7 linked regions of the Homo sapiens genome follow. The protein of the gene in region 3 purifies or fractionates together with the protein of the main gene of each other region. This does not show direct contact. Each region holds a gene or a part of one and is shown on either strand. Other genes may lie near its edges.

Region 1 (5,025 bases), on a different chromosome or scaffold from region 3:
TCTCATGCCTCAGCCTCCCGAGTAGCTGGGACTACAGGTGCATGCCACCGCGCGAGGATAATGTTTGTATTTTTTAGTAGGGATGGAGTTTCACCATGTTGCCCAGGCTATCCTCAAACTTCTGGCCTCAATGATCCATCCTCCTCAGCCTCCCAAAGTGCTGGGACTACAGGCATGAGCCACCCCGTGTGGCCAAAATGACAATCATTAATATTTACAAAAGTCACTCAGAGACTGTGACAGAGATGGATGAGAATTAAAATGTGGTATTTTAAAGTCCTTGAGCATCAACTACAAAATCAAAGAGCTACAGAAACACATCTATCATTTGATGCATAGGATGAAATATTTCTCAAATCAACCACAAAGCTGAGAAGCCAGAAAATACAACAATCCTCTTCACCCCTGACATTTCAGTCTTACATGAGTTGACTGACCTCAAAGTCAAAAAAGAATTTATTTGTTTAATTCAGATTAGGTGGAAATGGCACTGGTAAAAATTAATCTTGTAATCATTCGAAATACGGAAAACAGAAATTTTGCTACTTTATGTGACATGCATTTTAGTATATACTGAAATACTTGCAGCTTGTAGCTCAAAAGACTATTTTAAAAGTGGAGGACAAGCATGGCGGCTCATGCCTGTAAACCCAGCACTTTGGCAGGCCAAGGTGGGTTCATCACTTGAGGCCAGGAATTCGAGACCAGCCTGGCCAACATGGCGAAACCTCCACTCTACTGAAAATACAGAAATTAGCTGGGCATGGTGGCATATACCTGTAGTCCCAGCTACTTAGCAGGCTGAGGCAGGAGAATCACTTGAACCCGGGAGGCAGGGGTTGCAATGAGCCAAGATTGTGCCACCACTGCACTCCGGTCTGGGAAACAGAGTGACACTCTGTCTCAAAAAAAAAAAAAAAAAAAAAAACTGGAGAATTGGAGAGTCGGTTATAAATACCCCCCCAATAATAATTTAAAAATAAATGTAGCGAGAGCGCCCAAAATGACACCCTAGTAGCAACAAGCACACCTAGGCACGAGAACTTGGTTTTAATACCATTCTTCAATAAAAGGAATCAGAGATCTTTAAAGAAATAGCTGACTCTAGGACTGCGACAGGAAATATAAAAGATGAGTCTGGGGCATGTATACTGCCAGGAAGCAATAAAGTGCTAAAAAAAAAAAAATTGATAGGAACATGTCAAAGGAGAACAGTAGACAACTCGAAGAGCTGCCAATGGCCAAAGCTGGTACAATTTGAGCAACAAAATAAAGAAGTACTGGATTATAATATAAGTTATGTAATAAACATCCACAAGCCCATAAGGATATGATAAAATAAACTAACAAATAAATGTGAGGGAAGACACAAATCTCCCACAGAGAATTCCAAATAAATTATGTAAATATTCCACCCTAACTGAGGAAGAGCACAACTGTCCATTCAGTAAGCGTGGGCTCTGCAAAGTGACTTCCTTCCAAAGAGAACAGTATAAAAAGGGGTGGGGGAAGTAACTTTACAGTGGATAAATCTAACAAACGCTACTCCAGAAGGATGATCAAGGTCAGTAATAATGTGATAAGTCACCTTGATAGTATGTATCCTTGATAGCATGTGTTGAAAAGGGCATCTTACCTCTGTGATCTTCCCCTGATATAGTCCGTAAGGCCATTTTAATCATGAGAAAATCGTCTGGCAAATTCCAATAGCAGGGCACCCTACAATATACCTGACCATACTCCTCAAAAAATGTCAAGGTCACTGTATTAGTTTGGTATGCTTGCCATAACAAAGTACCAAAGACTGGGTGGCTTAAGCAACAGAAATTTATTTCCTCACTGTTCTGGAGGCGTATAGTGTAAGCTCTATGGGGTTGATTTCATTCTAAGGCCTCTCTCCTTGGCTTGTGGATGGTTGTCTTCTCCCTATGTCTTCACATGATCATCCCTCTGTATCCTACTCTCTTCTTATAAGGACAGCAGTTATTAATATATTGGGCTAAGGTCCACCCTAGTGACCTCATCTTCTTTAAAGACCCTCTCTCCAAATACAGTCACGTTCTGGGGTACTGAGGTTAGGACTTCAAGATACGAATTTTAGAGGGGCACAAGTCAGCCCTTAACAGTCATCAAAAACTAGTTAAGCCTGAGAAACTGTCACAGCCAAGAATATACAGCCTAAGAATATACAACAACTAAATGTAATGTGATATCCTAGCTGGCATCCTGGAACAGAAAAAGGACTTTAGGTAAAATGTGAGGAAGTAGGAATAAACTATGGACCTTAGTTAATAATTTATCATTATTGGTTCATTAGTTGCAACAAATGTACCATACTAACATCTATTAATAAGAAGATAAACTGTGTGTGTAGTGGGGACGTCGTATGTGCTCAACGTAAACAAAAACTGTTCTAAAACATAAAGTCTATTAGTAAGTTAAAAAAAAAAACTCTCAAGAACATCTTTAAAGAACTGTTTTCTCTATAAGCCCTTTGCCACTTTACAAAAAAATTCCACAAGTAAAATCTTTAGTAGTCTGGTTGCTGTTGTTTTCGCCCTGCTGCACTCAAATGAGGAATTCTAAGTTTATTTTGTTTTACTTGGGGGCAGGGGGAAGTAAAAAGATGTAAAAGATTAATGTTGAATTAAAATCTTAAGCTAGAATGTTAATTTAACAACCCACAAACAAATTTGTCTAATGCTCAATTTGTTCAGATGACGATACTATCCACCACAGGGTAAAAAACTGAAATATTGGATACTACCTTTAGCGAAGCTTAACACATAATATCCATCATTGGGTAAGAACACACGAAAAACACAAACTAAGGAACTGCGCCTGCGTAGTCAGAGCCTCAAAGGGTATAAGCTCCAGGTCGCGAGCCCCCGCCTCCTCCGCCCCCATGAACCCCCTTCCCACAAGGGGGTTCCCACTGCGCACGCGCAGTGTTTAACGGCCGGTCAGGAACCCAACAATTAGTCCCTTCTCGTCCGAGAGGAAACTCTGTGAGAAGATGGGACCGTGAGCACTCTCTTTAACAAGGACATTTCCTTTTCAGCGAAAGCAGCGCTCTGATTTACCAAGTCTGGCGGACCGCAGCGCTTTAAAGGAATGAGGTTCCAGCGGTCGCGCCAAGCAGCGTACGCAGCCTATTTTAAGTTATGCTACCTTCGCCACAGAAACCAAGAACGTTGTAATGGTCCGGCAAGTGCCCACGTATAATTGTTCTCCATCACTTACCCACTCTAGTTCGGGAACACCCTTGTCGCCGCCGTTCCGGTAACACCTCTCCAACGCTTTCGATGCTTCTACTTCTTCGGGAACAAGACAAGATGGCGCCCGATTTGTCTCACCCGGAAGTAAAGAATAATAACATCCGTTTGTCATCTGAAGCCATACCATCTCTCATCCAGGTTTGTGAACACGTGATTGTGCGGATTGACATGTTTCGGCGCCATTTTTTTTGTGGGCAAAACCATCTCTACTCTGGTCAACACCGGGCAACTGAACCATTCCTGCACGTTACTTTTTAACGTAGCTGGCGCCATTCCCGACCCATCTTTATAGTGGCCAGAAAGCCAAGAACGTAAGTGTTCTACACATAGGGCGCCTTCAAATTTTTTACTTTAGCAACGTGATCTTCCTTTAAGGGGAAGTATGTTCCCTCCTAGAAACACTCCCGCCTTGGAGAAGGGGTTGAGTTCGCAACTCCACTTACAGACTACGGAGGAACCCCAGGGTCAAACCAAACCAAACCAATTCTGGCCAGTTGCTTAGCGCAGTTCAAGTTACTTAGTGCGCTGGAAGCGGCATTTCAGGCAATCCAACTTCTGGCTCGAACCTTCTCGGAGTATTCCAAGGATGGAATACTCTCACTTGAGCGCTGCCGAGGGTGCCGCTTGAGGAAAACGTGAGTTTGTGAAGGTGAGCAGTCTGGGTCGGTAGCGAAAGCGGAGACCTTAGCTGACCCCGCAGCTGTCTTTCTCTTTGTTAACCTCAACACATCGCGCCCCCTTCCGGGAACACTTGCTCTTCTCTCCTTGGCTTAACTAGTCCCGGTTTTTCATTCTTTATCCGTGACTTTTAGGGAACCGTGGGGGGGAAGTCTGGTTTCCGTCCTGCTGCTTTCCTTCAACTACAAGATGGCTTCTCAAAAGGACGCATGCAATGCCATTCCTCAAAGACAGTATGTTGATTTCACAGTGTTTTTATATGAACAACGTTCAAGTGTCAAAAGTATCAATTTCCAGGCTAGGAGCTACAAGTTAAAAGGAAAACAAAAATGTTCCAAAGATACAGTGTTTATTAGCTACATCTTGGGAAGTGCCTTTCCAGAGAGTAACATGAAAACTTCTGCGTGACAAAGTGCACGAAGTATCTGAATTATTTCATTGGGCAATTGTCGTGCAAAAGAAATAGCAAATTACCGTAGAAACAAAATAGTAAGAGCACAGCTAGATGGATAAAGATACAGATGTGAAAATATAGATGCCCTTTGCATGAAAATTCAGTTTTCCTCAGCACTAGAGACCCAGATACTCCTGAATTAGCATTATAATAAAGTCGTCACTAGCTAACCATCTGCCTTTCCTCCAATCCACGGACGTGGTCCTCAAAATAACATTTTATCTTGTGAGAAACCTTCATTAATTACACCTAACAACACCATGACGCAGGTTCATGAGGATACTACTGAAGGCAAAAGGAAATCCCTATTTCTCTGACCCTTTCCCTAATTTCCACTTAGCACAAATAAGACTACTGGACAGTCTGATTTTAAAAAATCACTGTATGGGCCGGGCTTGGTGGCTCCCGCCTGTAATCCCAGCACTTTGGGAGGCCGAGGCGGGCAGATCACTTGAGGTCAGGAGTTCAAGACCAGCCTGGCCAACATGGTGAAACCCCGTCTCTACTAAAAATACAAAAATTACCTGGGCGTGGTGGCAGGCGCCTGTAATCCTAGCTACTAGGGGGGCTGAGGCAGGAGAATTGCTTGAACTCAGGGTCAGAGGTCGCAGTGAG
Region 2 (3,467 bases), on a different chromosome or scaffold from region 3:
AACCCCGTCTCTACTAAAAATGCAAAAAATTAGCTGGGCATGGTGGCGGGCACCTGTAATCCCAGCTACTTGGGAGGTTGAGGTGGGAGAAATTCTTGAGCCTGGGAGGTCGAGGCTGCAGTGAGCCATGATTGCACCACTGCACTCCAGCCTGGGCAACAAAGCGAGAGCCTGTCTCAAAAACAAAAAAAAAAAGAAGAGTATAGTAGATGCTCAATAAATAAGTACTCAGTGACAATGAATAGCATCTTCTAACTAGACTGCTAATTCCTGGGCTGTTTCTCCACTGGGCACCCAGCATGTAACTGCTGAATTAATGATAATTGGGTAGCTGGATGGTGGGAGGGGGCTGATCGTGACGGATCTGTGGGCAGCGGGCAAAAGAGGGCAGTAGGTGAAGGCTAGGCCATGGAAGGGGAAAGGCCCTTTGTTTTATTTTTATTTTTATTTTTTGTTGAGACGAAGTCTCGCTCTGTCGCCCAGGCTGAAGTGTAATGGCACCATCTCCACTCACTGCAACCTCTGCCTCCCAGGTTCAAGTGATTCTCCAACCTCAGCCTCCCAAGTAGCTGGGACTACAGGCTCGCCACCACACCCAGCTAATTTTTGTATTTTTAGTAGAGACGGGGTTTCACCAGGTTGACCAGGCTGGTCTCGAACTCCTGACCTCAAATGATCCACCTGCTTGGCCTCCTAAAGTGCTGAGATTACAAGTGTGGGCCACCGCACCGGGAAAAGGCCCTTTGTATGCAGAAGGCAGCCCTCCCTCTTCCATGGGATTCAAGACGCCTTTCCTTCCCTTCCTTTCCTTCCCTTCCCTTTCCTTCCTTTCCTTTCCTTCCCTTCCTTCCCACACAATGGCACTACTTCATAGGATTGGAAGAGCTCATTGAGTTTATTTAAGGAATACAAAGGGGACTGGAAGTGTCACTGGCATGTATACACACACACACACACACACACACTTACACACATGCACACATCCTAAGCAACATTGCTCCAGAGGTTGGCATCATCTGCTCGAGGTCTTCAGATTTCAGAGTCAGGTGTGAATCTTGGGGACTTGAGGAGATCCAGGCTATGCAGAAGAAACGGTGATGGGGAGGGGTCCAGCAGTCCTCCCCCTGCCCACCAGGCCCTAGGAACCCTGTTCCCTCTCCCTCCCTGAAAGCCAGCAGCCACTGCCATCCGTGCCTATCTCCCTCCCTCCCCGCTTTCCCTAGGGGCAGTCCCAGCTCACCTGGCCACCTGAGGATCACCTGGTGCTCCAGGTGCCCATGCGGCCCCCTCCTCCCCAGGCTGGGTCTGGCCCATCGGGATTATCCATGTTCTCATAAGAGTCTGCATCTGGATAGGACCAGGGAGGAGGAGAACATGGGTGGCACTGGAAGTAGGCTGGAAGGCAAAGTCAGCCCAGGGGACAGCAGGGGACAGCGGCAGAAGCACCCACCTTCCTCATGATTGGGTCCAGGCTGGCCCCGAATGGAGCGGAGCTGGGGGGCTGCATACAGGATTCCTCTCATATCCTCATAGGACTGGGACCCTGCTTGGGCGGGGGATGGAGAATTGGAGGCTAGGGCATGGGAAGTACAGCCTACGGTAAGGAGGAAGACTGAGGGGCAGAGGAAGGTGAGGAGCATTACCCATGCTGTGCTGGGAAGGGGTGATTTGGTTAGCATTGAGTTTGGGGCCCCAGTTAGCTGTAGGGTCAGGGTTAGATATGGGTTAGATTATGGCTAAGGAAGGGGTCAAGAACAGAACTGGGCTGGGCGTGGTGGCTCATGCCTGTAATCCCAGCACTTTGGGAAGCCAAGGCGGGCAGATCACTAGAGGCCAGGAGTTGGAGACCAGTCTGGCCAACATGGCGAAACCCTGTCTCTACTGAAAATACAAAAATTAGCCAGGTGTGGTGGCAAACGTCTATAATCCCAGCTACTCAGGAGGCTGAGGCATGAGAATCGCTTGAACCTAGGAGGCAGAGGTGGCAACTGCACTCCAGCCTGGGCAACAGAGGGAGACTCCGTCTCAAAAAAAAGAAAAAGAAAAAGAAGAAACTGGAGGGAGTCGGAGTCAGAGTCATGAAGAAGCTGCAGAGTAAGCTGGGGTCCAAGTTGAGGTCTGCACTGGGGCTGAGGTGAGGTGGAGATCAAGTCCAGGCTGATACTGCATTGGGATCGGTGTTGATATTCACAGTTAGGGAGGGGGTAAATATTGGGGGTCAGGATGGGGGATGGGGCTCAGGATGGGGGATGGGGCTCAGTGTTGAGGTGAGAGGAGTCACAGGATTGGGTTCGGGTTTGGGGTCAGGGTCAGGTCAAAGTTGGATCTGGTGTCAGAGCTGAGGCCAGGTCACCCAAGCTGGGCAAGGCAGTCTGATTGAAAGCATCTCTCACCCAGGGAGGTTGCTTCCCGGCTGGGGTCCCAGGCTGACCCATGAGGGCTCAGGAAGTCTGGAAAGGGAAGAGGGAGGTTACTATTCCTCCTGGCCTCCAGGTGTCCTCCGCCTCCCCCCTGGACTGTTGCCATCCTCACACACACCCATTGTCCTGGCGACCGGCTGGGTCAGCTCTTCATCCTCGTTCTCATAAGACTCAGCTGTGGCAGAAGAGAGAGAACTCCAGGGACCCCTTCTAGGAGTGTCACAGCGCTGCAATTACACCTAAGTCTCTGAGGTCCCACAAAGGCCCCAAGTTACCGTTGGAGAAGGAGTCTTCATCCTCAGGACCCAGGGGCTCATCCTCAGGGTTCTCGTAGCCGCTGCCATCTGGTGGAGAAGGAGGGGTGTCCATGGGAGTCCACAGGCCACCGCAGAGGTGGGGGGCCACGGGGGAGGGCAGCCTTACCCTGGGAGAGCTGGTCCTGCCCAAGGTTGGAGTCGTTCTCATAGAACTCGGAGTCCTCCTCACTGTCAGGTTCCTCATAGCCCTCCCCTTCCTCTTCTTCTGGGCCTGGGGGTTTGGGGATGGGGATGGGGAACCGAGTCATGCCCCCTCTCCTCCAGGGCCCAGTCCACTATTCGGGCCACAGACCGCTCCAACCCCCTCCATGTGGGGAACGACCCTTCCCTCTCCCAGTCATTCACCCACTCCCGGCGGGCTCCGGGACCCCAAGGCTCCATCCGCCTGGACGTCGCTGCTCGGGTTTCCATAAGACGGGGCAGTGCCCCCCAGGCCTGCGGCCCAACGCTGGGCGCGTCCTGGTGAGAGGGGCATTGTAAGACGGGGTCAGAAGAGATGGGGGCGGTCAAGGCTAAGGGTCCGCGCGGCGGGGCACGGGAAGAGGATGTTTTGGGCTCTGCGAATGGACTCTGGGTCTAGGAACCCGGCCTTGAACCCTGGGGCGGAATCTAAATCTAGGGCCGAGGCCTTCAGTTCTGGGGCGAAGTTCTGCTCTTGATTACGACTTCAGGCTCTGGGTCCTGGGGGCGTGGCTCTGAGCCCTGGAGGCGGGGTCTGGTTCTAGAGGCG
Region 3 (4,531 bases):
TCAAACATTGTCCCACTGGGGTCTGTAACCAAGGGAACTAATAAGGATATGGAGGCTGCACCTGCAGTTCTGGACACACACTAACTGCTGCCCAACTGATTTTGCCCACACCCACTGACTGAGCTACAAAGGATAGAAGATTTGTTCTAAAGTTGAAAACATAATTTTTTTTGGTGGGTTTTGGTGGGGGGGGGGTAGTTGTTGTTTTCTGACCTTTTCCCCATTTAGCTTAAATTAGTTCTTTTAGACAGCATCATGCAAAAGTGATGCAACTGTCTTACTGATATAGATGCCACCTCTGTTCATTTATGAAACACAACTTATTTAGCCTCCCCAAACCTACAATACTCCAGAAGGATTCAATTTAGGTAACTGAAACACAGAAAGACAAATAAAGTTCCCAAAGTCACCACTGGCTTTTTTATTCACACCAAGCAACACTTCATATCAGTTATTCACTTACAGTTTATGCACAGTGTAATATTATTACTAATTCCGAACTTTCATTGGAAAGATAAAGTGAAAACAAATGCTGTCATAAAAATAGAACACTAGGCCGGCGCGGTGGCTCACATCTGTAATCCCAGCACTTTGGGAGGCCGAGGCTGGCGGATCACCTGAGGTCAACAGTTCAAGACCAACCTGGCCAACATGGCAAAACCCCGTCTCTACTAAAAATACAAAAATAGCCGGGCGTAGTGGTGGATGCCTGTAATCCCAGCTACTCGGGAGGCTGAGGCAGGAGAATCGCTTGAACCCAGGAGGCGGAGGTTGCAGTGAGCCGAGATTGTGCCATTATACTCCAGTCGGGGCAACAAGAGCGAAACTCCGTCTCAAAAAACAAAATCAAAAACAACAACAAAAAAACACTAAGTAAGTAACGAAAAAACCACCAGCCCTCCATTCAAGTTTAATTAGTGGTAGGGATTTTTCCTCTGGTGGGGGGGTGGGGGTGGGAATGTGTCTATTTTTTAAGTAAACTCCTTATGCTTTTGGTGGCACCGTGGAAGCAGAATGAATAAAGCCAGCAGTTTTTTTCTACTTTTTAAGCAGATTATTGCTCACACTAGGAAAGCAAGGGAGTGAATTTTATCAAAGCCTGGGGGCTATCCACACTGTTATTTTGCTCTTTCCTGTGGTGTAGGAGGTTCTATTCTCATGCTGGGGAGACGAAAATACGTCAAAGGAACACCAGGGGTGTTCTGGAAGATCGCTTTGCCACTTATCTACCATGTGTATGCCACTATCTTCTGGAGGTGGATTAATTCAATATTTTGTAAATTAGATTTTGAGAAAAATTGGGCAAGAGTGCAAACCTTTCCCTCCACCCTGCCACACACCCTGACTCCCTGGTTTAAATGGTCTCTCACTGGAGTGACAAATTGATGAGTTTACAATCAGCCCTTCCCAACACTCAGTTTTAGCTCTAAACTCAAAGAGGTTCATTTTAACATTACAATTATGCATTTACTCAGGAGTAGTGGTAACCAAATAATACTACTCTATTCTCAGGAACTACCAACTCATTGAGAGCCCTGTAATCATACCACAATTATTCTTGTGGCAAATTATAATTAAGTACCTCTTCACAATCAAAGACTCAAATTACAGGATAAAAAATAAAACCCTAAATAAATTGAGTACTGTGACCAGTAAATGGGGTCAGAAGCATCCCAACAAACCATGTCTGGTGTACTTCTCTTAGCCGAATAAATCGCAGGCAACATTTTATCTTTAGTTTTGTTGCAGGCTCTTGGTGGATACATTCCCTGCTTAGACCCACCATCTGTTTCATTCTTGTCCCCTGCTCTTACTTCCTATAAGACAGGTCCTTCTGGAAGCTGCCTCTACTCTTTCTCTGTTTTAGAACAAATCCAGTTTGTACAAGAGGAAGTCTTCCTCTCTCTCAAGTATCTGTGTTTGGGCAGGGTTTAGTGCTGCTCTGACTATGAGGAAGTAAGCAAGTCTCTCACTAGCCATCGCCCCTCTGAGCAAAAGGTGAAATGGCCTCCACCTCTAGATCATTGAGCTAGAGGTCTACCAGAATTGCCATGATTTGGTACCACCTTCTTTGACTGCTTTTCTCCTGTTTCTTATGATCCAGTCCAGACTCACACAGCCTGAAAATGTGGTAGCTCTTCCTTAGGTGCCACTGGTCCATCACTCAATAATGTGAAAGGAAAGGGATCCATTTTTGAGTCCTCCAGAAGGTTGGTGTGTAACACACAGCTCTGAGTTAAAAAGTAGTTAGAGGGTAAAGCTTCTGTGGGTACTTATTGTGAAAGGCCCCATTTTTTTTTTTTTTTTTTGAGACGGAATCTTGCTTTGTTGCCCAGGCTGGAGTGCAGTGGCACGATCTTGGCTCACTGCAACCTCCATCTCCTGGGTTCAAGCAATTCTCCTGCCTCGGCCTCCCAAGTAGCCGGGATTACAGGCGTGTGCCACCACACCTGGCTAATTTTTGTATTTTTAGTAGAGGTGGGGTTTCCCCATGTTGGCCAGGCTGGTCTTGAACTCCTGACCTCAGGTGACCTGCCTACCTTGGCCTCCCAAAGTGCTGGAATTACAGGTATGAGCCACCGTGCCTGGCCAGTAAAGGCCCCAATTTTTTTAAAACAATTTCAGTAGCCTACAGAGTCGGTTTGACCACAAAATATGCACAATGATGGCTAACCCTGAGCTCCACTCAGGGTGAAGGGTGGAAATGGAAGTGACTTGAATGTCTCAAACATACAGACACACACACACACACACACACACACACACACACACCACTGTTGTTTATAGAAAGAAAGAAATGGGGGAGGAGAAAAAATAGACACAGAGCTCTTCATTTAAAATATGGAGTTCCAGTGTTACAATGTCCCCTTTATTAAATTATAAATGCAAAGATTTTTACAGGGCCACCTTTTGCAGCCTCCCAGCTCCCTATGGAGCAACAGAATTCAGAAAGACGAAGCTTATTAACAAGAGTGCAGCCATCATACAAACTGCAGTATGCCAAGGAATTAATAGAAATAGCACTTGCAGAATCAGTAAACTAAACCATCTTGGGCTCTTATCTTCGCTCATAAGATAAAATACTATTAAGAATAATAAGTCCAGGCGCAGTGGCTCATGCCCGTAATCCCAGCACTTTGGGAGGCTGAGGCTGGCGGATCACTTGAGGTCAGGAGTTAGAGACCAGCCTGGCCAACATGGTGAAATCCCGTCTCTATTAAAATACAAAAAATTAGCCGGGCGTGGTGACAGGCGCCTGTAGTCCCAGCAACTCAGGAGGCTGAGGCAGGAGAATCGCTTGAACTCGGGAGGCGGAGGTTGCAGTGAGCCAAGATCGTGACACTGCACTCCAGCCTGGAGTCTCAAAAAAAAAATAAAAAATAAAAATAAAAAAAAAAAAGAAGAAGAATACCAGAGCAAAATTCAGAAAACTACACAGCCAGCCTATGATTGGGAAGAGTCTATGAGATATGATTTAAAATAAAATAACCAGTCAACTGTACTTCAAATGACTACTTAGCCAAAATATCCAAGAAGTAGTGTTTTCTCTTGATTTCTCCTTGAAAGCACTACTCAATTGGCTAGGAAGATTCTGGCCATTCCCTGTCTTTCCTTAGGGGGATGGAATGGAACTTCTGTTCCTTTCAGTGACTTCTACCTGACAGGCATTTTACAGGCATTATTTCATTTATTCCTCACAACAAACAGATGAGGAAACTGACACAGAGGTTATGTGACTTGTCCAACCTCATCCATCTGTAGCTCTTGGTATATCATCTATAGCCCTTGCTTTTTTTGTGGTGTTTCACTGCCTACCGGAGGGATTTTTGTTCGTTTATTTGTTTTTTGGTCTTTGATGAGGTTGATGCCATCTGCCTTGGGGCCCCTGTCATTCTCCATGGCTATCATCAAAGAGCAGTTGTGACAAACTCCTCTCCATTTTCTAGGAATGTTCAGCAAGAGAGGAAATGGTGGTAAATACAGGAGATAAGAGAGTATTCAAGATCCTAAGCTCTTTCCTCTGCAATATTCCTCCAGGCTGGTAAGGATGATCTGTCTCTGGTAACTGTCAACTATACTTTTTTTGCACTTGAGGACTCTTCTTAGTCTTGCCAGGTTTTCTTACATTTTCCCTCTTTAAATCATTCCCAAGGAGATTCTGTCTAACTAGTGAATTTCTAGAGTCACTTGTTGTTTCCTTTCCTGGATGTTTCATTGTTGATGGAATGAAAGCACAGTGTTTAGGTGGAACATCCACCCTTCTCTGTCCCTAGGGTTCTTATTGCTTACTGTGAATATAAAACTTTGATCAAATATACCTTCTATTTTTTTGAGACAGGGTCTCACTCTGTCACCCAGGATGGAGTGCAGTAGCAAGATCACCACTCACTGCAGCCTCCACCTCCTGGGCTCAAGCGATCCTCCTGCCTCAGCCTCTCAAGTAGCTGGGACTACAGGTGTGCACTACCACACCCAGCTAATTTTTAATTTTTTTGTAGAGACACGGGTCTCACTTTGTTGCCTAGGCTAG
Region 4 (4,067 bases), on a different chromosome or scaffold from region 3:
GGAGCCAATAGATGCAGGGAGCTGCCTTGGTCTTTCGGAAAAGGTCATCCAGCAGCTTGGCAGGTGGTTCCTCCTGGGCTTTCTCTGAGGTGGAAAAAAGTGAACCAGATATGATGCATCTGACCCTCTGTCCCATCCCATCTGGGTCCCTTTCCCACCTACTAGTGGGTATGCGTACCCCATAGCTAAGTACCTACCTTTCTTCTCACTCTTCTTTTCTTTAGACTTCGCACGTTCCTTGCGGCGGCGGTCACGGGACCTTGATCGGGAACGGGGCCCTTCTCGAACTTTGTCCCGATCCCATTCACGCTCTGATCGAGTCCGCTCCCGCCGCTCCATTTCCCGTTCCCGTTCTGCCCACTGTTCCCGCACTGCCCGTTCCTGCTCCCGCTGCTCTGCCCGGGGGTGCTGTGGTGGCTGGACCGGGGGTGGGGGTGGGGGGTGCAGGGGCCGTGGTATTCCCTGCTCCTCTGTCTTAGTTTCAGAGGGACGGTCCACCAAGAGGCCTCGGTGATAATCCAGCTGTGGGGAGAGGAGGGACAAGGACAGTTAGGATAGAGGTGATATCACTCCCACTCAAGGAGCCAGGATGGCCGGGCGCGGTGGCTCACGCCTGTAATCCCAGCACTTTGGGAGGCCAAGGCGGTCAGATCACGAGGTCAGGAGACCGAGACCATCCTGGCTGACACGGTGAAACCCCGTCTCTACTGAAAATACAAAAAAATTAGCCGGGCGTGGTGGCGGGCGCCTGTAGTCCCAGCTATTCGGGAGGCTGAGGCAGGAGAATGGCGTGAACCCGGAAGGCGGAGCTTGCAGTGAGCTGAGATCGCGCCACTGCACTCCAGCCTGGGAGACAGCGAGACTCTGTCTCAAAAAAAAAAAAAAAAAAAAAAGGAGCCCAGGTACCACTTTGAAGCCCCATGGTACAATTAAAGGAACCAAAGCCAGGGAAGAAGAGAAAAGAACAGAAGCTCAGAGACTGCAGGTCTGGCAAGGATCTCAGCTGAAATCTAGCAGATAATGGCTTCCCCTGCCCCTCCTCTCTTTCCTCTCCCTAGGTTTCTTACCTCATCTTGCTCGGCATAGTCAGCACAAAGGAATTTGGGATTGGACTGGGGCCATTTGACCCCGTGCAGAGCTGTGCGGGTGGCAACAGCTTCCTCTACTGTTGAGTACTGGTGGAGGAAGGGAGAAGATGGAGGGTCACAGTGTGTCTGCAACCCTTCCCACGTGCTGCAACACCCTTAAACCTGCCCACACTGGTCACAAAAGGAAATATATGCCATGACCTATAGAATCAGCTTCTTCCCCTCACCGTTACAAAGCAATGAGATTTGATCTTGTCAATCCAGAAGGCCTCTTCCACCAAGGTTCCTGTGCGCCCCAACAACTCCTTTAGCTGGCCTAAAGTGAAAGGACGGACCTGCCAATGAAAATAGACTTTCAGGGTCTAGCAGAAGGCAAGACCACCACCCAATCTTTAGATTTCCCGAGCTGCTGTCACAGGAGTATAGTTTCAAGGTTTGGGGGAGGGCAGAGAGTTTAGGAACCTTGCAGTAAGAATGTGAGAAGAGTGGTGGTGCTTCCCAGCACTAATTGAGACGTTGTATGTGAGGCCTTCTGCAAGTCCTCAAAACAACCCTGCAGGGCAACAGCTTTTCCCCCTCATTTTTAGATGGGTAAATATGTTAAGTAACTCACTCAAGATCAGTGAGTAACTTAATCTATTGGTAGACCAGTTCAACTATGAGTGGAACCTAGGAGGCATAAGCCTAAAGCTCAAACTTAACCACTAAGCAAGCTGGGATGGTGAGAAACAATGACTTACCAAATTGGAGATATGGACAATGTTGCTAATCTTGCCCCGGGGTGGGGAGGGCACCTGGGCAGTTCGGACTGGGTCATCAATGGTAATGGAAACTCCGGACTTCTGCTGGCTAATGGAACGTCGAGTTAAGGTATCTCCTAAAGTCACTATCAAGAAGACCACAAGAACAGCTTTTGGTAGGAAGCAATACTGGCTCTTTTCACCCTCAATGTAACTCTCACGGTTCCCTTTCTTTTATACCAAGCAGCCACTCCTTAATCTAAACGTGCAGAGCACCTATAATCTGCAAAGTACTGTGCTAGGCTAACCTCCTCATCATGGAGATTCAAAGATTAAACAGAGTCAAATCTGGCCCTCAAGTAGCTTACTTAATATGTAGGAGAAAGATATGATATACGAAAAAATATAATGAAAGGCAGGAAACATTCAAAGCTTTCAGCGATCCAAATGAGGTGCTCTGAGAATTCAGGGAGCCGCATTACATTTCTCTCACAATATGTCACTCACCTTTCTTTACTTCATGCTCTGCAGGTGGGGGCAAGGCCACCTCTACTGACACCTGGGGAGGTACAGGAGGTTCTGCTTCAGGTTCCTTCTCTTCTTCCTCTTCTTCCCTCTGCCCATTCTCCTGGCCCTCTGCAGGTACTACCTATCAAGGTGTCAGAGAACACAGCAGGTCTGTTAAACACCAAACTGGCATATTCTTTTCAGCCTCTGGTTCCCCGGTAAGAGTAGCAGTCAATCTAGCATGTTCCTTCCGCTAGGGGTATTTCGTTATCGGCTCACTTCTACCAGATCCTGGGATTGTTAGTGCCTCAACTTTGCCTTGAGGAAAACTAAGACAGGAGTTAGTAAATTTTTTCTGTAGAGCAAAGCAGTACTTCAGGTTTTGCAGGCCACATAGTTTGTTGCAACTACTCAACTCTGGTGATGTTGTAGTGAACAAACAGCCACAGACAAAAGTGAATGAACTCGTGTGGTTGTGTTCCAATCAAACTTTATTTGTAACAGGTAGCCAGCTGGATTTGGTAGTCTGACCCCTGAAAGTGTCAGTCAACCCAACCCTCTGCACAGACAGGGAAGTTCCCTCCAAAGACTTTATCTCAGCTCCTCAGCTAGCTGCTCTGCATCTACTGCTCCCACCTTTCCCCTGACACTGGGGTGCAGAAGCCTTACCTGAGTGACTGTCCGGCATATTTTCAGCCCCTTGTCATGGGTCCCATCATCGCCATTACGCTCTGTCTCATCCTCAGAGATGCGAGAGTCATCAGCATGAAGATCCACAACAGCCTCCTGCCCCGCCAGGGGTTTGATGTCGGGGATGAGGCTCTGGGACACAGATACCCCCCACCCCGTTACACTGGGCCCATGTCTACTCCCACCTTAACAGGTCTCATCCTCCCTTCCCTGGCTCCTCCCACCTCACCTTTAGTGATTCAGTGGTGATACTGATGGAAGGTTTCTTCTGTGTGGTGGCTGTGCTGGCTCCCCAGCGTCGTTTCCGACCAGGCTGGCCCCCCTCTGTGTCACTGTTTCCAGCTGGCACCCCCTTGGTAGCTGCTGTCCCCAAGAAATAGACCCAACAGTTAGATGGTCTCAGGACCTCTGCTAGTTCAAACCGTAATACCTACAGGTTACCTCTGGCTGGAGTTTTGGTAAAAGGTTAACTTAAAGAAATCATATTTGGAGGCTGAGTGTGGTGGCTCACACCTGTAATCCCAGCACTTTGGGAGGCCAAGGCGGGTGGATCACGAGGTCAGGAGTTTGAGACTAGCCTGACCAACATGGTGAAACCCCATCTCTACTAAAAATACAAAAATTAGCCAGGCGTTGTGGTGCATGCCTGTAATCCCAGCTACTCAGGGTGCTGAAGCAGAATTGCTTGAACCCGGGAGGCGGAGGCTGCAGTGAGCCAAGATGGTGCCACTGACTGCACTCCAGCCTGGTGACAGAGCAAGACTCCGTCTCAAAAAAAAAAAAAGAAAAGAAATCATATTTGGGAACTGGGGAAACCATGGCTTCAGACTGAACACTGATCTAAAAGCAGTAAGGGAGGGGTAGCTAGTTTGATGAGCCGTTTAAACTTTTAATGGTAGACAGTAATATCAAGTAGTGTGGAAGAAAAACTGAGAAGGACATGTAAATGCAGAAGAAACAAGAACACTATGTGATACTAACATCTAGGCAGAACTAAGATCATGATGGGATCTGGTCTTCCTTTAATTTTCACACTACAGAT
Region 5 (3,500 bases), on a different chromosome or scaffold from region 3:
GTCTGCATTCATGTGTGCACTTGTGGATGGTTATGCATATAATATCCACAAATACTGTTTTTACAACAATAGGATTATATTATTTCTACAATGTTACATGCTGCTTTATTCACTCAATGTTTTATTATGATATTTTCCCATTCATTAGGCATATGAATATATGATTTTTATTTATTTTTATTTTTGGAGATGTGGTTTCACCATGTTGCACAGGCTGGTCTTGAACTCTTGGGCGCAAGTGACTCTCCCACCTTGGCTTCCCAAAGCACTAGGGTTATAAGCATAAGCCACTTCCCCTGGCTGAATACATGATTTTTAATTGCTCCATTATATTCTAGTAAATTGATATATCATAATTTATTGATCCATTCCTCTATCTGGGGAGTCATTTAGTCTGTTTCCCATTTTACTCAGGTAGAACCAATGCTGTATGAAATGTCCTTATTTTTGTGAACTTTAATCTTTGGAATATTTTACATATCTAAATCTTTCTTTAGAATAAAAACCAAAAAGTGGCTGGGTGCGGTGGCTCACGCTTGTAATCCCAGCACTTTGGGGGGCCAAGGCAGGCAGATCACGAGGCCAGGAGATGAGACCATCCTGACTAACACAGTGAAATCCCGTCTCTACTAAAAATACAAAAAATTAGCTGGGTGTGGTGGCACGTGCCTGTAGTCCAGCTACTCGGGAGGCTGAGGCAGGAGAATGGCTTGAACCTGGGAGGCGGAGCTTGCAGTGAGCTGAGATCATGCCACTGCACTCCAGCCTGGGTGATAGAGCGAGACTCCGTCTCAAAAAAAAAAAATAATAATAAAATAAAATAAAAACCAAAAAGTGAAATTATTAGGTCAAATGCTACAAACATTTTTAAAGTTGTTGATGCATTTGCCAAACTTTCAGGTTTGTAACAGTCTGTGCTTCTTAATAGTTTCTCTCTCAGAATCCCCTGCAGGGTTTGTTAAAACATAGTGGCTGGGCGCGGTGGCTCACGCCTGTAATCCCGGCACTTTGGAAGGCTGAGGCAGGCAGATCACGAGGTCAGGAGATGGAGACCATGCTGGCTAACACGGTGAAACCCTGTCTCTACTAAAAATACAAAAAATTAGCTGAGTGTGTTGGCATGCACCTGTAGTCCCAGCTACTCTGGAGGCTGAGGCAGGAGAATTGCTTGAACCCAGGAGGTGGAGGTTGCAGTGAGCCGAGATCATGCCACTGCACTCCAGCCTGGGCAATACAGTGAGACTCCATCTCAAAAAAAAAAAAAACCAAAAACATAGTTTTCTGAGCCCTATTTCTCATTCATGGAATGAGATGGGGCCTGATAATTTGCTTTTTTTTTTTATTGAGATGAAGTCTCACTCTGTCGCCCAGGCTGGAGTGCAGTGGTGTGATCTCGGCTCACTGCTGCCTCGACCTCCCAGGCTCAGGTGATCCTCTCATCTCAGCCCCCAGTAGCTGGACTACAGGCGCGCACCATCATGCCTGGCTAATCTTTGTATTTTTTTGTAGAGACCAGGTTTTGCCATGTTGCCCAGGCTGGTCTCGAACTCCTGGATTCAAGCCATCTGCCTGCCTTGGCCTCCCAAAGTGCTGGGAATATAGGCGTGAGTCACTGCGCCCGGCCTGAGTTTTTCTTAATTCTACCTTTAACTGTAACCTTGGGACAGTTTCTTCATCTGTAAAATGGGAGGGTGGTATTTAAAGGTCCTTAAAGGTTTCTTTTCACTGTGTTAATGCCTTTTTAACTTTATCTTCCATTGCTCTCCCTGACAAAACCTATGCTTCAGCTGGGCAGAGCTATTATTCTTACCAGTTTCTTTTTGTTTCTGGCTGTATGCCTTTGTTTATGCCATTGCCTATAGAATACCCTCTTCTCACTTTCACAGTCCTTCAAGGACCACCTCAAATGTTATTTCTTACCACAAAGCCACTCTTGATCCTCTTCTCCTTGTCCTTTTTCCTCTTTGATGTTGTCTAGAACTGGGGATGTCTTACTCATCAATTTATCCGTCTCCCACTCCTGCCTAGTGCCTAGTATGGTGCCTTACATACAGAAGCAACTAAATACTTATGGAATGAATGCAGGTGGCTTCAGGTGCCATTCATCAGCACCAGAGCAGTAGGTAGCTGGTCTCTTCTGAGTCTGGGATGACCTTGAATAAACTTGACATTTAATGTTGATATGAGAGCGCTGTCCATGCAGTTAGCGATGTTGGAATAAAAAGATTCAGAAAGGCCAGTGATTGAAAAATGACTTGATCTCTTTACAGCCAGTAATAGGTAATGTCAAAGTTGTATGTTCCTAATATTGGGAACTTTATCCAGTTGTCTGAGCTGAAAGGGATGGGTATTGTAAGTGGATGGGAATAAACATGTCTCCAAAGCCACATTTGTGGTTTTTGTTTTTTTTTTTAAACAGGGAGCCCATGGCCAAGACAGATGAGGGGGTGGCAGCCCCAGTGAGTGGAGGTGCTGCACGACTCCGATTTTTCTCCATGAAGAGGACGGTATCTCAACAGTCATTTGATGGTGTCTCATTGGATAGCAGTGGCCCTGAAGACCGGATTTCAGTGGACAGTGATGGCAGTGATAGCTTTGTGATGCTCTTGGAGTCTGGTATGTGGGAGCAGAGCCAGGCAAAGTTGCAGAAGTCCAGAAAGGGTTCTCTCTGCTGCCTGTATCAGACTGGCAGGGCTAAAGAGGAGCTGAGAGATGATAATATAGACATTTTCTTAATCAAGACAAAAAAAGAGAGACAGAGAAATTTTGGTGGACTTGTGGGTTTGGGTTTAATTCCATGTTTCTAGGTTATTGGTTAATAACTGACTATATCACAGAAAGAGATTCAAACCAAAGGAGAAAGCACTAGTCTTACAGCCTTATAGCTAAGTCAGGATTAGTTTCATGGTTGGTATCAGTGGTGTGAGTGTGCTTATAGTCTTTTTTTTTTTTTTTTTTTTGCCTGTGTTGTCACTGGAAAATAGGAGCTTTTTATCTGTTAATAAAATGAGAAACTTTTAGGAATTACCTCTGTAAGTTAAACTGGTTCTTTCAGTTTATTGAAATAATAGAAACTTAGGAAATGATCCTTTAAGAGTATCTAGGCTGGGCACAGTGGCTGACGCCTGTAATCCCAGCACTTTGGGAGGCCGAGGCGGGTGGATCACTTGAGGTCGAGAGTTGGAGACTAGCCTGGCCAACATGGTAAAAACCTGTCTCTACTAAAAATAGAAAAATTAGCTGGGCTTAGCGGCAGGTGCTTGTAATCTCAACTACTCGGGAGGCTGAGGCAGGAGAATTGTTTGAACCGGGGAGGTGGAGGATGCAGTGAGCTGAGATTGCGCCACTGCATTCCAGCCTGGGCGACAGCGAGACTCCATCTCAAAAAAAAGAGAGAATGTCCTATTTATTTATTTATTTTATATTGACAAATTATAATTGTATCTATGTGGTATTAATACTAAGCGATCCTATGATATATACACACACACATACAGTGT
Region 6 (4,531 bases), on a different chromosome or scaffold from region 3:
AGCACTTTGAGAGGCAGAGAGGGGTGGATTACTGGAGGTCAGGAGTTCAAGACTAGCCTGGACAACATTGTGAAACCCCGTCTCTAATAAAAATACAAAATTAGCTGGGCGTGGTGGCATGCGCCTGTAATCTCAGCTACTCAGGAGGCTGAGGCAGGAGAATTGCTTGAACCCGGAGGCAGAGTTTGCGGTGAGCTGAGACCGTGCCACTGCATTGCAGCCTGGGCAGAAAGAGCAAAACTCCATCCCCTACCCAAAAAAAGAAAAAAAGAATATCTGGATTTTAAAAGAAATATGATTTGAGATGTTTATGAATCTCTAAACACGTTTAAAACATGTAATTCCAGTAATAAGATGCTATAGATACTCTAAAACTTAATTCAGAACATTAAGTGAATATTCAGAGCCTTAACTGAAATCACATAAATACATAACATTAATTAGAAAACATAATTCCATTTCAATTCAGATACTAAGCAAGGATCATTCACTGGTTAAGTGATTCATACCTGTATAGAACCCTCCAAGTGGGCATAAACCTGATTCATACCTCAGTAAAATTAGAAACACAGATCATGATTTACGATTGCTTTAAACATCTAAAATGGCCAAGGTTAAATCGGTAAGTATCAAAAATCTGTAATACTGGCTGGGCAAGGGGCTCATGCCTGTAATCCCAGCACTTTGGGGAGCCAAGGCAGAAGCTTGCTTGAGGGCTGGAGAATCACTTGAGGCCAAGAGCTTGAGACCAGCCTGGGCAACACACTGAGACCCCCATGTCTATATTTGTTAAAAAAAAAAAAAACAAAAAAAAAACTGTAATACTGAGAAAACTTCATAAGAACTGCTGAGCAAGCTTTAAAAACTCTCATGTATAATTTTTACTTATAAAAATATTTATATACATTTTTATTTTATACTGTATAAATACATGCTATTTTTAAGAAATGAATATATTCATTGTTGTAATTCAAAAAAAAAACCCCTCAAGATAATCTGCTTAAACACTTTCATGGAATGTTAACCAAGTAATCCTATTAAATCATTAACTTATTTACATATTATTCCTAAATTTACTTCACATCTCTAGGAAGACTAGATTATCAAGTCACCTTGGGGCATAAAACTATTGTTTTGCTGACATAGATACAAAAAGAAAATCAAGGTCTCTTTTTAGAAAGGTAGTTATATCGTAAAAAGTAGAGAGGTAGGTAGCTTCCAATGATCTTGTGCTTCCAATGATTCTGTACTTCCAAAAGAAGGACAGCTATTAAAAGCACCATGTCTTCATGTCCCATATGGTGTATTTACTAAACTCAATTAAATTTTTAAAAAATAATGACAGCCTGCCTTTATCAGACATCAACAAAGTTGACAAAAATAGTAAACTACAATGTAAATGATAAGGTGATAATTATTAAAATACAACTAAATGTAACTGAAAAAAGTTTTTTTCCTAAATGATCAATCAAAACCTTTCACTGAAAGGTATGAAATAGTCATCTAGGACGGTGAGAGAATACATGCGCTAGGACAGGATAAGGCAGTATGGCTGCTAGCCAGTATTAATGACTTCCCTAACAGCAAGAATGATAAAATTTATAAGATTAAGTCCTGCCCTACTTTATAAAATGTTGCATAAAAAGACTTATACTTACCTCTGGTGGTGGTTCCTGATCATTCTTCCATGATGCATCTGATCCCTTATCCCTGAGTGGGGTGGGGATGGGAGTCAAAAAAGTATTCATCACAATTCTATTAAGTGCTCATAACTTAAAAGTACAGAAAATAATAAAGTAAAGGACATGAGTTCAACCTTTAATTTTGCAATACAGTTATGTGTCTTTTACCTTATTTCAAAAGATGTGGGAAGCTCCTAAGAAAAACACAAAAGTTGAGCAAGTAGAAATATTAGGATTAGGGAACTGGAATGAGAAGCCAAGGCTATGGTGTGCAGTGGAAAGCAGATGGACAGCTCTTTTGATTTTTGTTTTCATAATATTTGCAGTTTTCACAAAACTCAGTTTAAAAAAAATGCTTATTTCACGCCAACTGTAGATCAGAAGTTGTTCCATGTGCGAAGGACATAAAAATGACTATGAGGCATTCCCTTTTCACAGATTTTACAGGTTTAATGGCAGAGATATCAATATGAATTATTTTCTCCTCAGTTTACCTGAGGAATGTCAGCAATCCTCTATGAGTAACCAAGGCTTATTCCAACACTGATTCTCAAAGCAGTGAGGGTCAAACAAAGGCTAACTATGAATAGTTGGAGGAAGAGGAAGAGAAGCTGCTTTAAAGATTCTGAAGGACAATATAATGACTGGCATGTGTGAAATGTGTAATTGCAGCTGAAAATCAACAACTTTTGGTGGAGAGTTTTACACTTTACATCCAACAAAAGTACAGATATCTATTATGAGCAGTATAATTTGTGAAAGCTCATTTTTAATCTTTTTAATTTTGTTAATTTCATAGTTTCAGCTACTATTTTGTTATTCCATTATGTTAAAATATCACAAAGTAAAATATTACAAAGTATTAGGACTAGATGTCCTTATTGTTTTAAACTAGATCTCAAAAATAAATGAGATTCCCAGGAATTAAGGCCATTAAAATCAATGTACAGATGTCAGTTTGCTGGCACAACATGAAAGTTATTAAGTTTGCTTTAAATTTTTGATTCGGAACTTTGACATTATATATGAGCCATTATCAATGGCTTTTCCATCACTTAAAAGAAAAAAGCATTTCCTCAATTGTCATTTCACACATGGGCCTTAAATATATCTCTGGTATTCCTTTCTGCACATATGACATCTCATGATCTGGACTGCTGTTAGCCTGGAATCACAGACATAAATGGGAAAAATTCCCCAACTAGTGCGTCTATTACAAAAAATCAAAATCTACTAAAGGAAAGATCAAGCAACATTTCAAAAGGCACTTTTAACAAGACAGTAAGTACATGAGAAACTAAGATCAAAATAGCCTCATTAGAGAACAGTAAGCTGGAAAGGAGCTGAACTTCTCTACCTCAAAGACAAAGTACTCCACCAAGTTCCCATGACAGATGCCAAAATGAGGTCTAGAATACAACAGTTTTCCTGGGAGAGGGAGGTTTCTGCAATATAGGTCTAATTTCCCAATTCACTGATTTACTACTGCTTCTTAATAGAAGAACTGCAAATCAAAACCAAAGACTGAGTCTATTATCTAAAATCTATTTAAAAACCATCTTCAGAAAACCTCTTCAAATTTATCTGTTTTAAGCTAAAATACTCTATTTGTTAAAAAGCTAAATATATGGCATATCCACAGCAGTATCTTTATATTCAAAGCAGGATGAAATGCTAAATATTTAAAGCATTTTAGAACATATTAATATCTTGAAGACTTTATGTGTATTTAATTCATCTTTCTTGTCAGTGTTATTTAAGAAAATAACCTTATGCAATGTGAAGAATAACTTAGGCAAAATATTCCTCCAGATCTTTATGTAGATTCTTAAACATGAGTTAAATCAATTATCAGGATCAAAATTTTCATCTCTGAAATAAATGAAATTTGGTGACTTGAGACTTGATTTAACATGTAAGTGGTATAAGTAATCTTCTTATGCCATGCAACTGGGGTTGGTACCTTTGACATAATACCAAAGTTACTCAGTGACCAAAGTTCCTTTGTTTTCCTGCAAAAACAACATCTATAAAAATGTATCGCCTAGGTTTTAAGTCTCCAATAAAAGAAGAGCTAGAACTAAAAGGAACTTCTGTGTCAAACTGAGTGCAAAGTCTTTCTGGATTTAACCTTCCCCCAGTCTTTGGCAGTCTTTTCTTCCACTCCCAATTTGAAAATATTTTTAGTGGCTCATATTCATTACATCATTCGAAAGCATTCAAGTTATTTTTATTAAAAAAAAATCTTAAATTCATATGCTATTTGCTGATATAAAAAATTAAATAACATAATTATAACAAGTTTAGCTGATACAAACAGCTCTACAACTAACAGCTGGCAACAGCTAACATTTGAAAAATATTCAACCAATGGGAGCACAAATATAAAAAAATATTGCGGTCACATGCCACAGAAATCACTTAGCATTATTGATAGACAAAATGGAGAGCACTGGTTTGTTGGTTAGGTCAACTCCATACACCGTAACTTTCTACACAATTTTTCAGGGACACGTGTTAGTTGTCTCTTCTACAAACTTAAAATTTATAAGCAAAATAAAGAGATAACACTCATTTTTTTTCTCTTGAAAACTATTTTAAAGTTTTATTGAAGAGCAAGGCCCCTAAATAGAATCCAAAGAGAATTTTACTTAACTGAAAAAAAAGTTATTAAGAAATGATAATAATATTAGTACTAATACTAAAATAGTAAGTACATTAAAGAATGTACATAATGGAAAAAACACTGAACTAGAATCAGAAAGTGTACATGGCTCAAATGTGCTCTTAATGGCTGATCATCTCATTTTTTACAAAAGATATGAATTCTACGTACAAAATCTGAAAAT
Region 7 (4,531 bases), on a different chromosome or scaffold from region 3:
TAAAGTTTTGGGAATATCCTAAAAACAATGTTCCCCTAATATCATTGATGAATTTCCTGCTAATCTTTTTGCCTTTTTCATTCTTCAGGGAGTAATTTCTTATCCTTTTTTCCTTTCGGTTTTGTTCATTTTTATACCAGTAATATATACGATGAATATATACAGTAAAAAATGAGGCCGGGCGTGGTGGCTCATGAATGTAATCCTAGCACTTTGGGAGGCCAAGGCGGCTGGATCACTTGAGGTCAGGAGTTCGAAACCAGCCTGGCCAACATGAGGAAACCCTGTCTCTACTAAAAATACAAAAAAACTTGCTGGGCATGGTGGTGGGTGCCTGTAATCCCAGCTACTTGGGAGGCTGAGGCAGGAGAATTGCTTGAACCAAGAAGGTGGAGGTTGCAGTGAGCCCAGATCGCACCACTGCACTCCACCCTGGGCAACAGAGCAAGTCTCCATCTCAAAACAAAACAAAAAACGAAATTCTTCCTCTCCGCCCCAATTACTGTTAATAGTTTGGTATGTATCCTCCCAGCCATTTTTCTATATAGTTATGTACATATATGTATATAGATAATTAAGTAGTTTTTATATAAATGAATCATAGGGAAAATATGGTTGTCTTACTTTTCTACTTAAGATATATTTGTGCATACAGATCAACTTCATTCTACTATTTTTACTATCTGTATGATATGGAGATGGAGGGTGTGTGTGTGTGTGTGTGTGTGTGTGTGTGTGTGTGTGAGTGTGTGCATGTCTCCTAGTTAACCATTCCTCTCTTAATGGAAGTACAGGATATTTCCAAATTTTTGCTTTTATAAACAACACAGCAATAAACATCCTTGGCTATATCTCTTAATATACGCATATGAGTTTTTTAAAGATGTTTAGAGCCACTTAGTAAATTGGCATATACTCTAAAAATATTGGTTCATACTGCCAAGGTGCCTTCTGAGAAAGATGTATTGATTACATTCCTACAACAACATATGAAAGTAAGCATTTTCCTACACCCTTGCCAATACTGGATTATATCAAGCTTTTAAACTTTTACTATCATGGGTGCAAATATATTATTGTTTTATTTTATAACAACTGCAAACCAAAGAAAATACAACTGCTAGCTATATTTATGCTTAGGGCATAAGAAAGGCTAACAAAGTGAGAAATTATCAAAATGAGAACTTCTAAACTCCAAATTTTACCAGCAACTGTATTTATTGATGTTTCCTCACAACCATGTTTATTTTATGATTATTTTAAAACAACTATGCATATTATGAGTGTAGCTGAGATAGGGAGCAGGGAAGAAGTAAACCGTAGACAAAAGGAGAAAGGCAGAAGAAAAGCCAATGGAGGATTTTAGAACTGGAAGAGAAAACAGTTGTCATCTAAATGAACCCCTTCCTTTTACAGATAAGGAAATGGACACGGTTGCAAACCTGTAGAAGAGGGAAAGACTCCAATCTTCTTGTTCTCAGTCTGGTGCTCTGTTCACTATAAAAGTCTGCCAGAAGGGAAGTCAAACTGGGAAAACCTAAGAAAGGAAACTGTGAAAGACAAAGCCTACAGGAGGGGGTAGCAGATTAATTTTTAATTAGCCCCTTAGAAACCGAAAGAAGCTTGATACCTTACGCAGCTTTTGTAACACTACTAAGGACATCAGTGCAAAATAAGGCCTGTATGACATGTATCTGCTCACACATCAAGTGACTAAGTGTCATAAGCCCTCATATACTCTCTGCAGGTGCTCTCCTTGGTGCTGGAGAAAATGGGAAAGTGTATTAAATGTTATTAATGTCCCTGTAAATTCTGTATCAGATTGAGAACTGTGATTTGTGTTTATATAATTCCTTTTTATTTTTAGTGTATGTATTTTAGGGCTATTATGCTTTACAGTGATCATTGATCAATGGATCTCTACTCCTGAAATAAATTGAGTCTCAAATGACTAGGTCCTTCTCTCAGAGACCAAACCTTTTCACTAAGGGATGGACTTTTCTGAATGCCTGAGAAACTCTCTTAATGGCTACCAGTAACTAAAAATGGATATCATAATAAAAACTGACTCACAACCTATTTTACTAGACTTCACATACACATGTGGTTCAGTTAGGAAGCTGACATCTCACTTAGTAAAGGTGTGGGCCAGACTGCAGCAGGTGAATGAGTCATGGATTTTAAAATTCTCTATTTCCCATGGCTTTAATTACATAGGGTTTTCAGCATGACACTGTATTTTATACAGATCAGGTCACAAATGAAAACTGAAGGAAAAAATAATCCGCTTTACAAAACCTTTATGCCTTTTTCCCACTCTCATTCTCTAATTAACAAATAAGCATTTTCCAACCTAAGACATCAAAACCTTTGGCATGTTAGTTACAATCAAGCTGATATATCTTTGTTATAGTTGCATTAGGGTGAAGTGGAATATGATTAAACATAGCATTGTATTGAAATTATAACATAGCACTGCAATTTGAAAATTTTGACCACTGTATGGTCAGAACTACCTATTGAACATCTGAATCTAACCTTCTAATTTTATAGGTGAAGGGGAAAAAAAGTCACAGAGAAGTACGATAATAAAGTTAGGTTTAGAAACTTTCCTCTGGTCCAGTCTAATGTACTTTTACAACTCATCATTTCAAAAGAGTTATAAATGAGAATCTGTCGAAACAAGAAAAAGAAAGAGAAGGAGAGATAGAGAAAGAGAGAGAGAGACGAGGGAGGGAGAGAGTTGGAAGGGGGAGAGGGAGGGAGGGAGGTAGAGAGAGACAGAAGGAGGGAGGTAGAGAGAGAAAGAGAGAGAGATTGAAAAACAATTTGTTTCAGAAAAGTATTGCTGAGATGAACTGAGAATAATGGTCAGGGTTAGGAGCAGGAAGCTACTCAAAAGAGAAGCATCCAAATCTACACTGAATATTTCAGAAACATTTGTTTTGTCACAGGCGTCTGAACCAAAGCCACTCCATTTTGAATACAGGCTGGGTAAAATAAGACTGAGACCTACTGGGCTGCCTTCCCAGAAGGTTAGGCATTCTTAGGATGAGATAAGAGGTCGGCACAAGATACAGGTCATAAAGACCTTGCTGATAAAGCACGTTTGCAGTAAAGAAGCTGGCCAAATCCCACTAAAATAGGATGGCGATGAGAATGACCTCTGGTGGTCCTCACCATTACAGTCCCACCAGCACCATGACAGTTTACAAATACCATGGGAATGCCAGGAAGTTACTCTATATGGTCTAAAAAGGGGAGGCATGAATAATCCACCCCTTGCTTAGCATATGATCAAGAGATAACCATAAAAATAGGCAACCAGCAGCCCTTGGGGCTGCTCTGCCTATGGAGTAGCCATTTTTTCATTCCTCTACTTTCTTAATAAACTTGCTTTCATTTCACTATATGGACTCGCCCTGAATTCTTTCGTGAGCAAGATCCAAGAACCCTCTCTGGGGTCTGGGTCAGGACCCCTATTTGGTAACAGTCCTACAAGCCAAATTTCCTGCAAGGTGTTAAGGAGACTACTCCAAAAATAACTTTAAAAATTGTAGACTGCATGAAATAGAGTTTGAAGACTCTAAATATCTCCCCAAAAAGTCCATTTTCACTTCCCTCTTCCTCATTTGAAAGGCCATTGTTCTAAAACAGAAAAACAAAAAAGCAGGAAATGGAACTTTTTCAGATGCTACAAGCTGTCCACACTCCCACAGCACAGTGTCCTCCCCACTTGCCAGTGTCTATGGAAACTTCAAGTTGGGAAGTTCAAAGTTAAGGCATCTGTTTAGCCTTCAGCATTTATTCCTACATTGTACTCCAAGACAGCTCCTTCCAAACTTAGGCCAGACTCCAGTGAGGGCAGGCAAGGGAAAAACTTCATCAACAAGGAGGTCAAGGCTTTTTCAATGGATGGCAAGATCTCCTATTTCTTGTGTCTTTTGTGTATCAGTGGAATAGCCACTATTTGTGAATAAAACAACTGCCCACCCACCAGGCTTAGAAAATTATTCAGCAGCCTAGAAACACGGTAGACATAAACTCTGAACAGCATTCCACTACCAACATTCTCAGTGATGTCATCCTCAGCGACCTAGTTAGAAGCCTGAAATGAGCAGGTTTTACAATGGGGTATTGAGAATGAAAGGACAAAAGTTTACTGAAGTGAACATTTAAACTCTTCATTAAGCTATCTTTCTCATCTTCTTCAGAAGCCTCCAGGCAAAAGCAGTCATTTGTATCTTTACTTCTTTCATCACCTCCACTTTGTTAATAAGGTACTACCACTGGAACTCTATCTCAGTTAACCGCTTAGTTACTTCAGGTATCCACTCAATGAAATAATATAATGGTATTTACTATTGCTGTTGTTACTGTTATTATTTTCATTATAAAAGACCAAAATAAATACCAAAATGTTGGAGAGTGGTTATCTGTGAATGGTGGAATTACAAGTACTTTTCTCTTTTTCACTTCTCAGTCCAAATTTTCTAAAATAACATGTAACACTTTTTAAAAACTATTTTTT

What was found.
Region 1: the proteins of BTK (region 3) and PNISR purify together in Homo sapiens (co-immunoprecipitation; one large-scale study listed by IntAct). This does not show direct contact.
Region 2: the proteins of BTK (region 3) and CD19 purify together in Homo sapiens (co-immunoprecipitation; one study listed by IntAct). This does not show direct contact.
Region 4: the proteins of BTK (region 3) and ACIN1 purify together in Homo sapiens (co-immunoprecipitation; one large-scale study listed by IntAct). This does not show direct contact.
Region 5: the proteins of BTK (region 3) and BLTP3A purify together in Homo sapiens (co-immunoprecipitation; one large-scale study listed by IntAct). This does not show direct contact.
Region 6: the proteins of BTK (region 3) and NAF1 purify together in Homo sapiens (co-immunoprecipitation; one large-scale study listed by IntAct). This does not show direct contact.
Region 7: the proteins of BTK (region 3) and TRIM44 purify together in Homo sapiens (co-immunoprecipitation; one large-scale study listed by IntAct). This does not show direct contact.

What each region holds. Positions count from the first base shown.
Region 1 is NC_000006.12:99,421,972-99,426,996, forward strand, and holds the start of PNISR (arginine/serine-rich protein PNISR), read right to left. Parts: upstream 3,338-5,025; 5' UTR 3,244-3,337; intron 3,144-3,243; exon of another isoform or gene 2,900-3,143; intron 1-2,899.
Region 2 is NC_000016.10:28,936,752-28,940,218, reverse strand, and holds the end of CD19 (B-lymphocyte antigen CD19 isoform 2 precursor), read right to left. Parts: intron 3,197-3,467; coding exon 3,083-3,196; intron 2,949-3,082; coding exon 2,844-2,948; intron 2,765-2,843; coding exon 2,696-2,764; intron 2,596-2,695; coding exon 2,539-2,595; intron 2,451-2,538; coding exon 2,394-2,450; intron 1,547-2,393; coding exon of another isoform or gene 1,544-1,546; coding exon 1,451-1,543; intron 1,348-1,450; coding exon 1,256-1,347; 3' UTR 1,241-1,255; intron 1,079-1,240; 3' UTR 877-1,078; downstream 1-876. UniProt on the Homo sapiens protein: Functions as a coreceptor for the B-cell antigen receptor complex (BCR) on B-lymphocytes. Decreases the threshold for activation of downstream signaling pathways and for triggering B-cell responses to antigens.
Region 3 is NC_000023.11:101,375,793-101,380,323, forward strand, and holds part of BTK (tyrosine-protein kinase BTK), read right to left. Parts: intron 2,232-4,531; exon of another isoform or gene 2,067-2,231; intron 1-2,066. UniProt on the Homo sapiens protein: Non-receptor tyrosine kinase indispensable for B lymphocyte development, differentiation and signaling. Binding of antigen to the B-cell antigen receptor (BCR) triggers signaling that ultimately leads to B-cell activation.
Region 4 is NC_000014.9:23,061,101-23,065,167, forward strand, and holds part of ACIN1 (apoptotic chromatin condensation inducer in the nucleus), read right to left. Parts: intron 3,389-4,067; coding exon 3,255-3,388; intron 3,158-3,254; coding exon 3,005-3,157; intron 2,478-3,004; coding exon 2,336-2,477; intron 1,975-2,335; coding exon 1,829-1,974; intron 1,424-1,828; coding exon 1,316-1,423; intron 1,176-1,315; coding exon 1,068-1,175; intron 523-1,067; coding exon 198-522; intron 85-197; coding exon 1-84.
Region 5 is NC_000006.12:34,861,583-34,865,082, forward strand, and holds part of BLTP3A (bridge-like lipid transfer protein family member 3A), read left to right. Parts: intron 1-2,419; coding exon 2,420-2,616; intron 2,617-3,500. UniProt on the Homo sapiens protein: Tube-forming lipid transport protein which probably mediates the transfer of lipids between membranes at organelle contact sites. May be involved in the retrograde traffic of vesicle clusters in the endocytic pathway to the Golgi complex.
Region 6 is NC_000004.12:163,135,541-163,140,071, forward strand, and holds part of NAF1 (H/ACA ribonucleoprotein complex non-core subunit NAF1), read right to left. Parts: intron 1,711-4,531; coding exon 1,659-1,710; intron 1-1,658. UniProt on the Homo sapiens protein: RNA-binding protein required for the maturation of box H/ACA snoRNPs complex and ribosome biogenesis.
Region 7 is NC_000011.10:35,721,280-35,725,810, reverse strand, and holds part of TRIM44 (tripartite motif-containing protein 44), read right to left. Parts: intron 1-4,531. UniProt on the Homo sapiens protein: May play a role in the process of differentiation and maturation of neuronal cells. May regulate the activity of TRIM17. Is a negative regulator of PAX6 expression.